Linked DNA regions of Homo sapiens: region 1 is linked to region 2. Evidence: fine-mapped expression QTL. A gene starts in region 2. The other region holds a variant in brackets. All regions are shown on one strand. Distances are from middle to middle. Region 1 has its middle 93 kb from the start of POLR1A. Region 2 holds the start of ST3GAL5 (ST3 beta-galactoside alpha-2,3-sialyltransferase 5).

The links.
Region 1: its variant is fine-mapped to the expression of ST3GAL5 in whole blood (TOPMed, PIP above 0.99).

What each region holds. Positions count from the first base shown.
Region 1 is chr2:86,010,037-86,015,408 of GRCh38, reverse strand. No RefSeq gene overlaps it. Among named protein-coding and RNA genes, the nearest start is that of POLR1A, 93 kb to the left of the region's middle. RefSeq lists an enhancer at 2,789-3,289. The variant C/T (reference allele first, on the strand shown) is at 2,171.
Region 2 is chr2:85,887,112-85,892,430 of GRCh38, reverse strand. It overlaps ST3GAL5 (ST3 beta-galactoside alpha-2,3-sialyltransferase 5), which reads left to right and starts at 3,441. Exons shown (of 7, transcript NM_003896.4): 1 at 3,441-3,607. The coding sequence starts at 3,526. ST3GAL5-AS1 (ST3GAL5 antisense RNA 1) reads right to left here and starts at 3,151. Exons shown (of 3, transcript NR_110569.1): 1 at 2,628-3,151; 2 at 1,226-1,255; 3 at 179-740. RefSeq lists silencers at 3,040-3,659, 3,700-3,819 and enhancers at 3,990-4,069, 3,761-4,261, 4,600-4,729, 4,740-4,859.

The DNA.
Region 1 (5,372 bases), 120 kb before region 2:
CTGGCCCCTTCTCTACAGAGTAAGCTCCTATTTATCCTTCAAAGACCCCTCTGCTTAAATCCCATCTCTTCTGTGAAGCTGTCATAGTCTGTAGTATGGTTCACCAGTACCGGCTTCCCCTCCCTGCCAGATGTTGGGCATGGCCATTTGACTTGAATGACTTCTAAGAGTTGCTTAATTCTTTGCCATGAATGACTTCTTTCCCTCTGGCCTGGTCACCAGTGCTGCTCCAGATGGTAGATGCTCTGGCCACCTGGCTCCCAGGCGCAAAGCCCCAGCCAACTCACAGTGCACAGGCTGCATGAGTAAGGAACAAACCTCAGCTATTTAAACCTCTGACATGTGGGGTTGCTTGTGACCCCAGTATAACCCAGTTTAGGGCCACTCCAAGTGTGATCTTCCTACTGCCAGGATCAGCAGCCCTGGGAGCATGTTGGAGATGCACACCTTGGACCCCACCCCAGACCTAATGAACCAGCCTCTCCATTTTCTCATAATTTGGTGCATGCTGAGCATGGCTTCTCTCCCATAAAAGCACTTAGTGGTGGTGGTTCCCCCCAACTCTTCCATGGCCTCTGAAGCAGGCCCTGCTAGTTGCTTCCTCTAGATCTATCCTCTCCTTCTTCCTTACTGAGAATTTGGATTTTATTGGTGGTGTCAGTGTGCTCAGGTTAAAATACTGTTTCCCAGACTCCCTTGCAGCTAGGGATAGTCATGTGACCCATTTCTTTCTCTGGACCAGAGGAAGGCACTGAATGAGACTTCGGGGAAAGCTTGTTCAAAAGGATAGGCCTAGCTAGGTGGCAAGTGCTTCTGGCCTTTGGCTTTGTTTTTCCCTTTCTTCCTGTCTGGAACTTGGATGTGGTGGTGGGGTGTTATGAAATGATCCCAGCGACTTGAGCCTCCTTGTATTCACACCGTCAGGTAGGCCCCACCAGCACTGAATCTGGGCTGGCCTGTGACTAGCTTTGACCAACTGAATGTGGTAGAAATAAGATTCAGGGACTTCTGTTCTGTTTGGAACCTGGGACCTGCCCAGGCTTGGGAGTCAATCACGTCTCTGTCAAGGGGAGAACTATTTGTGCAACTCATCATCATCCAGGCCAGAAACTGCCTCTTCATCTGCAGCTAATTGGTGACCAGGCCCATCCCTTCCCATGGCCCACATCTACCCTATGGTTGATCCATGGAACAGCTGCCTCTTGATCTCTTGCCCCTTCATCCCCACCCTTTCCACTGCTCCTCCCCACTTCTACTGATCAAGCCTGCACAGAGCAGTCAGATAGCTCTTTCTAAATGCAAATGTGAAGATCATTCCTCAGTGCTCTTAGGGTAAGTCCCAAGGCCCTGGCATGGCCTGCATTGCCATAGATGATATAGAGGCTCTAGCTCTCTGATTCCATCTCTAGTTACACCCCTCTCTAAATGCCATGGCCTCTGGACACACCATGCTACTCCCCGTTTCTGATACAAGCTATGCCTGTTAATACTCCCATGCCTTTGCCCCGTGGCTTCATGATGATTCGATGTCTCAGCCAGTTTGGGTTGCTGTAACAAAATACCACAGACTGGGTGGCTTAAACAACAGAAATTTATTTCTCACAGTCTGCAGCCAGAAGTCCGAGATCAAAATGCCCGCAAGGTAGGTTTTATTCTGAGGTCTCTTTCTTTGGCTTATAGGAAGCTGCCATCTTGCTGTGTGTTCACATGGCCCTTCCTCATTCCTCCACAAGGAGACAGAGAGAGACAGACAGAGGCAGAGAGAGAAGAGAGGAGAGAGAGCACGAGCACATGCTGGCACACTCTGATGTTTCTTCTTAGAAGGACATTAATCCTATTGGATCAAGACCCCACCCTAGGACTTCATTTAACCTTAATTACTTCCTTAGAGGCCCCATCTCCAAATACATCCACACTGAGGGTTAGGGCTTCAACATATGAATTTGAGGGGGGACACAGACATTCAGTCCATTATACTCAATTAGGGATGGCTGCCTAGAGAACTCTAAGCATCACAGCAGGCTGTGAGGTAGGGATGAGCCATCAGAGACAATTGAAAGTCTCTCGTGAAGGGTTCACCCTTCTCTTTCCTCCTCCTGTGTGGGATATGCTGCATCTGTCTTAGAGATGCTGCGCAGATGCCTATACTGGGGTCTGTCTGGATCACAGG[C/T]GGCTCTTCCTGCCACTGTCCCCTAGAACAGCTGAGGCTTTTGTCCTTCCTGCCATCTCCACTGCCTGCACCCCACCCATCCCAGCACTGCCACACCACCCTCTGGCTGCCATCACTTTGAATGAGAAGCAAATAGGTTCAGTGACTTCCAATCCTGCTAGAGCAGGGAAGGGATTGATTTGCCTTCTGACTGGAGGCAAGGGGGCCCATGTTAACCACTGCAATGTCACAGGCAAATCAAGAGCAGGCAAGGGTGTCTGCGACTGGGGAGCGGGGTGCTGTGGGGAATGGAGAAAAGTATTCAAGACTGAAGTACTTAGCATCGTTAAAACCATAAAGATGGAAAGCAGAATGCTGGTTGCCAGGGCCTGGGAGAAGGGGAAATGGGGAGTTAGTGTTTCATGGGTATAGAATTTCAGTTTTACAAGAGGAAAAGGGTTATGGAGATGGATGGTGGTGAGAGTTGCACAGCAATGTGAATGTACTTAATGCTACTGAACTGTACAGCTAAAAATAGTTAAGATGGTCATTTTTATATTATGTGTATTTCACTACAGTAAAAAAATTTTTTTGAGAATAAAAAGGACATACACTAGCTGTTAGAATGCAGCTCATGTGATTGTAAACGTGCATCTGAGTGTGTGTGGGGGCCTGTTCCCCTGCCCCCATGCTCAGCCAAGCTTCCTCCACCAGCAGCGCATGCCACATGGCCAAGCCCCCTGGGGACGGCTGCAGGTGGGCATCCTGCCCTGGCCATGCTCCTGCTCTGGTCCTGCTGCAGCCTCTCCCCATTGGGTGCTAATTTTCTGCCAGTGCCCCCTACCTAGCCCTGTGAGATGTGCTCATCGAGGCCATTGTGGGCTGCAGGACCATCCTGGGTCAGCTGCATGTTGGGAGGGCCAGAGGGGGGCAACTCTGTCTAGGTGGAAGATCAAAGACAGGCCTTCCAGGTGAGGGGCCAGGTAATAGGCACAGGAATGTGTGAGCATGTACAGGACAGCACACTCTCCCTTTCGCCTGAAGTGGATGGTGGGAGCACAGGGCAGAGGGTAGGGGGCGGGGAGACCCAAGCAGGAGTAGGTTGTTAGGGCTGGACTGGATAGTGAAGAGACAGCCCCAGGAGCCTGCTCTCTTTGGCTCGCAGCCTTGAGAAAGGAGCAAGGGCTTCCTGCAGCCGGTTCACACAGGGGTCCCTCTCCTCACTTGGGGGCAGTGTCTTACGGTCACTGCTGGGAGAGAAAGGAGTGGGGCCCAGCTCTGCTCAGGACCCAAGAGGGCCTAGAGCCCCACACTCAACAGGGGACTGGCCTTCAGCGAATTTCCCAAGGATGAAGGAAGGCTGGGAAAAGCCTGTGATCATTTCCCAGGCCCCTCACAGGCCTCCCAGGAGACCCATGCAGAGGGCGCTGGCCTCTGCACGTCCCCAGCATTTTCCTGGAGGTCACACTTTCCCAGCCAAGAAGGATGTCGAGTGCCTGGGAGCAGAGTCACAGAGGTGAGGACTTCCTTGGCCCTGCCCAGATGCCAGTGCCCTGGGGGAACAGCTCCCTGCCCAGGAGCTGGTGCCATCAGAGGTGCACTGAGAGGCGGCCAGGTCTACCTACACTCAAAGCCTGCTCTTTGGCATGCCCCAGTCCTGCGAGAAGGATCCTGGGTGACTCACTTTATGAGGCTCCTTGCTCTCCAACAAAGCTGTTTAATGTTTATTGCATTGTAAAAATCGAGCTTTTTCACATATGTTTCCTACCGCCCGCTGTGTCTTCTACAGTGGGCTCCCAGAATGGGGACTAGGGGGAGGCAGCAAAGGCAGTTGTCTGACATCTCACTCCCTACTTTGCAGCCCCTCTGCCTGCTCTGCCTCCCCTACTGACAAAACCCCAGTTTCAATCAGGCTGTAATATGTTCAGCTATAAGTGGCCTAAACCAATCATAGCAACCCCAGCCCCTGTGCTCTTGACTGGCCAGACCCTTATCAATGGCATGTAAGTAGCTTCTGGGAAAATACCTAGTTACATCCATAGGGAGAGGTCCATCCCCTTCTTCCCTTGGCAGTCACCTTGCTGCCACTGGCATGCCTAGAGATTGGCAGAGGGCTGACCTAGGGCCCTGGCATGGTTGAGTGGTTGTGACCCATTTCATTCTGCATTGTATTTTTTTTTTTGAGACGGAATCTCACTCTGTTGCCCAGGTTGGAGTGCAGTGGTGTGATCTCGGCTCACTGCAACCTCCGCCTCCTGAGTTCAAGTGAATCTCCCTGACTTAGCCTCCTGAGTAGCTGGGATTACAGGCACCCACCACCATGCCTGGCTAATTTTTTGTAGTTTTAGTAGAGACAGGGGTTTCATCATTTTAGCCAGGATGGTCTCGATCTCCTGACCTTGTAATCTGCCTGCCTCAGCCTCCCAAAGTGCTGGGATTACAGGCGTGAGCCACCAGCCTAGCCTCTGCATTATATTTTAAAGTTGATTTGCTGTCACCACTCTTACATTTTACAAGGAAGACAATACCTTTCACCATGTTCCTAAATTTAAGAAAACCTGCACAGTCCTCTTTTATAAGGTGAGTAAATGAAAGTGAGATCAATGAAGTCAGGTTTAATAATCACCTCAACTGGTAGATAAGATCAAATGCCTATGCCAAACACAATTTGCAGTTTTGTGTGAACAAAAGTTTTCTACAACACACATCCTGGCAGATGTTACTGTAACAAACATATCCTGGTCTCAAGATTGTAAGTCAATCAATGATCTTTAGGACTATTACTATTAGAACTAACACTATTTCAGAAAAACTCTATGCCCTTCTCAATAAAAAAACTTGGAAACTGAATTTTATGATAAAAATAGGGGGGACAAGGTATAGATTTAACTTACCTTGTTTGGTAATAGGTATGGAAATATTTGCTAACTTTTCTTTGTCTTATAATGGCTGACTCAGAGCTTGTCTTCCTAAAGCATGTATGTCATTAGACACCCATTCTGTCATAGTTCTTCAATAACTATGGATTCAGACTTGCAGGCTTGAGCTTGGATTAAACTCTTATAGCCAAAGCTGAGTTTAAAAATGTATGGCTTGTAAGTTTTTGTTTCCACAAACTCATGAGCCAATCTTGGAACTCCTACTTCTAGGTCTTTGTTATATTAATTATAATATAATTAAACATTTTTATTATTAAGTCTAGTCATTTGGGTTTTCTATTACT
Region 2 (5,319 bases):
AAATTCCTGAGACTTCCTCTGATTGGATCAGTGTGGTTCCTGTGGCTACCCATGAACCATTCCTAGTGGCAAGGAGGATGGGGCAATGGGGCTATCTGGGTGGCTGAGACCAGTAAGTCTCAAACTCTGGTCTCAGGATCAATTTACACACCTAGAAATTACTGAGGATCCCAAAGAATCTTTTTGACATGGTCTTTCTCTTGATATTTGCCAAATTAAAAATTAAAACTGAGAAATTTTTAAATATTTAATTTAATTTAAATATTTAAATTTTAAAATATTTATTAAGTCATTAAAATAATAAATCTGGCTGGGCATTGTGGTTCACACCTATAATCCCAGCACTTTGGGAGGCTGAGGAGGGTGGATCACCTGAGGTCCGGAGTTCTTGACCAGCCTGGCCAACATGGTGAAACCCCATCTGTACTAAAAATACAAATATTAGCTGGGCATGGTGGTACGTGCCTGTAATCCCAGCTACTTCTGGAGGCTAAGGCAGGAGAATCACCTGAACCTGGGAGGTGGAGGTTGCAGTGAGCCATGATTGTACCATTGCACTCCAGCCTGGGTGGCAGAGCAAGACTCTGTCTCAAGTAAAAAATAAATAAATAAAATAATAATAATAATAAATCCATTGCATGTTAATATATATTGATAAAAAATAACTTCTTTTTTTTAGACAGAGTTTCGCTCTGTCACCCAGGCTAGAGTGCACTAGCGTGATCTCGGCTCACTGCAACCTCTGCCTCCTGGGTTCAAGCAATTTTCCTGCCTCAGCCTCCTGAGTAGCTGGGATTACAGGCACATGCCACCATGCCCAGCTAATTTTTTGTACTTTTAGCAGAGACAGGGTTTCACCATGTTGTCCAGGCTGGTCTCAAACTCCTGACCTCAAGTAATCTGCCCACCTCGGCTTCCCAAAGTGCTGGGATCACAGGTGCGAGCCACCATGCCCAGCCAAAAAATAACTGGTTTTGGCTGCATGCAGTGGCTCACATCTGTGATCCCAGCACTTTGGGAGGCCCAGGCAGGAGGAACACTTGAGCCTAGGAGTTTGAGGCCAGCCTGGGCAACAGAGGGAGACTGCTGTCTCTACAAAAAATTAGAAATTAGCCTGGCATGGTGTTGGGTACCTGTAGTTCCAGCTACTTGGGAGGCTGAGGTAGGAGGATTGCTTGAGCCCAGGAGGTGGAGGTTGCAGTGAGCCAAGATCGTGCCACTGCACTCCAGCTTGGATGACAGAGTGAATCTGTCTCTAAAAAAGAAAAAAAAAAAAACGCTGCTGTCCTGGATTTGTAAGTAGCCTGAGTGACTCTTTGCTAGTCACTATTCAGAAGCTTCTCTGAGATCAGCCACTGACTTGGAGAGATAACAGTAAGGCTTTGAGATCTAGAGGCTGATCTTAGTCTGCTGTTTGGAGATCTCTGCCTTAATCCAGAATAATAGCTGAGGATGTCTCTGTGGCTGATGAAGAAAAGGAAGTTTGCAGGCCTGCTTGTCTTGCTGCCCAAGTGGGTCAACCTAATGTGAGTGGAGTGAATGAGGTAGTAAGGGCTTAACAGATGTCTTGTGATTCTGGGACAGGAGGCAGCTTCAAGTTCCTTTTCTTCCTCACCCCCACCTTACACCCATCCTTGGAAGCTGGGATACTGCTGACTCTCATGGCAGCCATAACGCTATCAGCGCCTGGCTTTGCCGACAAGGGGAATCTGGAAGAGAAGGGGAAGGACAGGGGAGACAAAGAGAGGTAAAGAGTGTTGCATCAAGCACATGTGTCAGAAGTGTTCAAACCAGAGCGCCTCCATTTTGAGTGAGGGCTAGAAAAATGAGGCTGGGACTTGCTAGGCTGCATTTCCTGAAAGCTAGGCATTCCTAGCCTCTAGGTGTTTATGGTTAAGAGAACAAATTAATAATGCTTACTAAACAGACCCAGACTTGAGAGAGTCCAGATATCCCGATATCTGGAGAACAAAGGCATTCCTAATTTTGCTTTAAAAATAATAATATTGATTATTGCAAAATATAGTAATTAGGGAAAATTAATCCTTTATCACAAACCCTTGTAGCAGAAGACATCTGCCCATATATACAAGCATTACAAGCATTGTACCTTAGTTGGATATGTCCCTCCTCTTATTTTCAGGAATGCCCTGCTGGAGTGCAGTGGCGATCTCGGCTCACTGTAGCCTCTGCCTCCCGGGTTCAAGCGATTCTCCTGCCTCAGCCCCGTGAGTAGCTGAGACAACAGGCTTGCGCCACCACGCCCGGCCAATATTTGTATTTCTAGTAGAGACGGGGTTTTGCCATGTTGGCCAGCTGGTCTTGAACTCCTGACATCAGGTGATCTGTCCGTCTCAGCCTCCCAAAGTGCTGGGATTACGCGTGAGCCACTGTGCCCAGCCACCACTTTACTTTCTTAATAAACTTGCTTTTACTTTGCACTGTGGACTTACTCTGAATTGTTTCTTGCGTGAGATCGAAGAACCCTCTCTTGGGGTCTAGATCGGGACCCCTTTCCTGTAACACATGGGCCTTGGGCTGATCTCCAAGATTAAGAGGGCAAGATACTCAGCTGCAAGGGTCAGCTGTCGCTGACCCCAGCAGCTGCTCTGCCTTGGCCAACTTACCGGATTTAAATCGCCCAGTGACAGCTTTTCCTCCAGTATTTTCAAAATGCTCCCAATATCCTCACGTTAGAACAATCCAGAAATAGTCTTATGGTAAAACTCTTTTGGGAAATGTGAAAGTAGAGTCCTCCCACCTTTTCCTTTGCAACGCTTTTGCCCCAACCTCGATCGCCCAGGCAGCACATTTTTTCCGGCACCCCCACCAAGGGAAGAACAGAGACATCTCCAAACCAGCTGCCCTGCGCCAAGCTGTTACAAAATAGAGCCACAAGTCTCCCGGTTTATGCAAACATATTTGGCTCGGTGTCTAGGATCTTCTTTTTCAAACTCAGAAGGAGATCACAGGCACACGGCCGCGGTGCTGTGTACGCCCCTCTGAAAGGAAGTTCTGCAAGTCGACCGACTTCACTGGCTTCACTGAAGTCCGGTCCGAAACCACCGGAAAGTTGCAGGCGCACAGTATACGTTCAGCTGTGTCCAAGAAATAACCTATCAATCACTGCCTTAAGCTTTGTTTCCTTCCTGAATTTTCTTATTTTCACGAATATTTATGCTTTCACAAACTGTATGTCATTTCCTCTCCAGAACCAAGGGGGGCTCGCCCCAGCCTGGCCCCCGCCCCGGGTGCGTCCCTGCAGGGGGCGCCCTGCTCTGGCAATGCCCACCGCACCGCAGGGCTGACTGGCCGCGCGCCCGGGGGCGGGGGCCGCCGCGGAGGCATCGTGCTCTCCGATTGGCCGTCCGCGTCCTCGTGACGTCAGACCCCGCCCACGCGCCCCTCCTCCGCATCTGAGCGGGGGAGCGGCGGCCCCCAGCTGAATGGGCGCGAGAGCGGCGCTGGGGGCGGGTGGGGGCGCGGGGTACCGGGCTGGCGGCCGGCCGGCGCCCCCTCATTAGTATGCGGACGAAGGCGGCGGGCTGCGCGGAGCGGCGTCCCCTGCAGCCGCGGACCGAGGCAGCGGCGGCACCTGCCGGCCGAGGTACGTGGCGCAGCCCCCTCCTCGGCGTCGCGGGGGCCCGCGGGCTGGGGGCTGCGGCGGCGACTTGTCTCTTCCCGGGCCGGCTGGGCGCGGCGTTTCCGCCTCGAACCCCGCGGGCAGCGCCCAGGGCACGACACCCTCAGGCGAGCCCGGCTGGGGCGCGGGCGGAGGGTCGTGGTCCCGGGCCGTGTGGACCGGGCGGGGGGTCCCACGCAGGTGTGTACGCGGTAGAGGGTGGGGCGGACCGCCGGGTGTCGGGTCCCGCCGCAGTGGCCCTTTCCCCGCCGCTTTCCGCTGCAGCTCGGGATTTAATTCATTGCTGGAAGCTTCGGAGTTAGCAGAGCCGAGTTAACTCGTTTTCCTGGGATGGGCTTAGGGAACCCCCTGCAAGGTTACTAGCAGCTCCTGAAACCTCTCTCTGCATCCATCGGGGAGGCGTGATGTGGGGCCGCTGGTAGAAATTTGCCGGTGACCTTCCCTGCACCCTCTCTGCAGCCAGCCTTGCGGAGAAGACAGGTTTTGGCGACCTTTTGATTTCTTCTGAATTGTAAGCCGTGGCTTGACGCGGGTGTGCATTCATTGTACGCCTTGCGTGTGTAAGTAACGCAGGGTTTTCCGAGAGCATCCCCGAGGAGCCCTGCCCTTGCCTCACACCCGCTTGGTGACCTTGGCAGACACTGATCCCCCTGTGGGGCTCGGGCTCATGGTCTCTCCTGAGAAGCTTACCCTGCCGATGGCCGAGGTCCCTTCCAGGCCCCGGGTTTTTCTAATCATAAAAAAATACGTTTACGAGGGTAGAGGATCCTGCAGAATCTCTAGCTGACTCGGAAGACGAATTTTATATCCTCATGTCTTAAGTCATGCATGCGGCTTTTGCTTAATTAGGCATCGTTCATTTGAAGGGGAAAATGGTTTTATGTGCTGCGCTTCATCTGGCACCAGTGGTTGCCTGCTCCTCGTGGCAGGGCCGTGCTGGGTGTCACAGAGAGGAAGGAGACTCATCTCCTGCCCTCTGGTGTTTAGCTGCCCTCCCCCGGGCTTATGGCTGCTAATCCTTTTCCACGGAAGGATACAGCTGCTGAAACTGTGGAAGAGGAATCCATTTCTGCTGCATGAAGGGGCACAGACTTGAATACAGTCAGGACAGGTTGTGGTTTCACTTGTGTAATCCTGAGAGCTTGACAGCTTCGAGGAGTGTCTAACATTGCTAGTAACAGAGCCTAGAAGCACCTGAATTCCAGCTGTCACTTGGAGAAGGAGAGATTCATACGAACTGCGAGAGCATATAACCAGCATGTCTTGAGTCTTTTACCCATGTGCCTGTTATATGGATGCTGCTGTTTTTGTAAGATGAAATGACCCTTGGATATTCTGGGTTATGATCAGCATTTCTTCGTCTAGGCGAGAAAAGAAACAGGTGAGATAGGAAGGCATGAAGGGGCTCATGGAAGAGAGAGGGCTGACAGGCAGAAATTTTGAGAGCTCACATTTACGACTATTTGGACAGTTCTTATAATTTTGGCATAAATTGTAAATTGTTGCATGTTATCAAAATAGATTGGTGATGAACGTTAAGGATATATCCGTGGCAGAATAAGAACACACTCTTTGTTCTTTGGTTTGCTCCTCTAGTTCTTCCCTGCTTGCCTTGTGGGACTATTTGCAGCAATGAGGGGAATTTATCTAGCAGGTTGGCCTCGGGAGGCAATGAA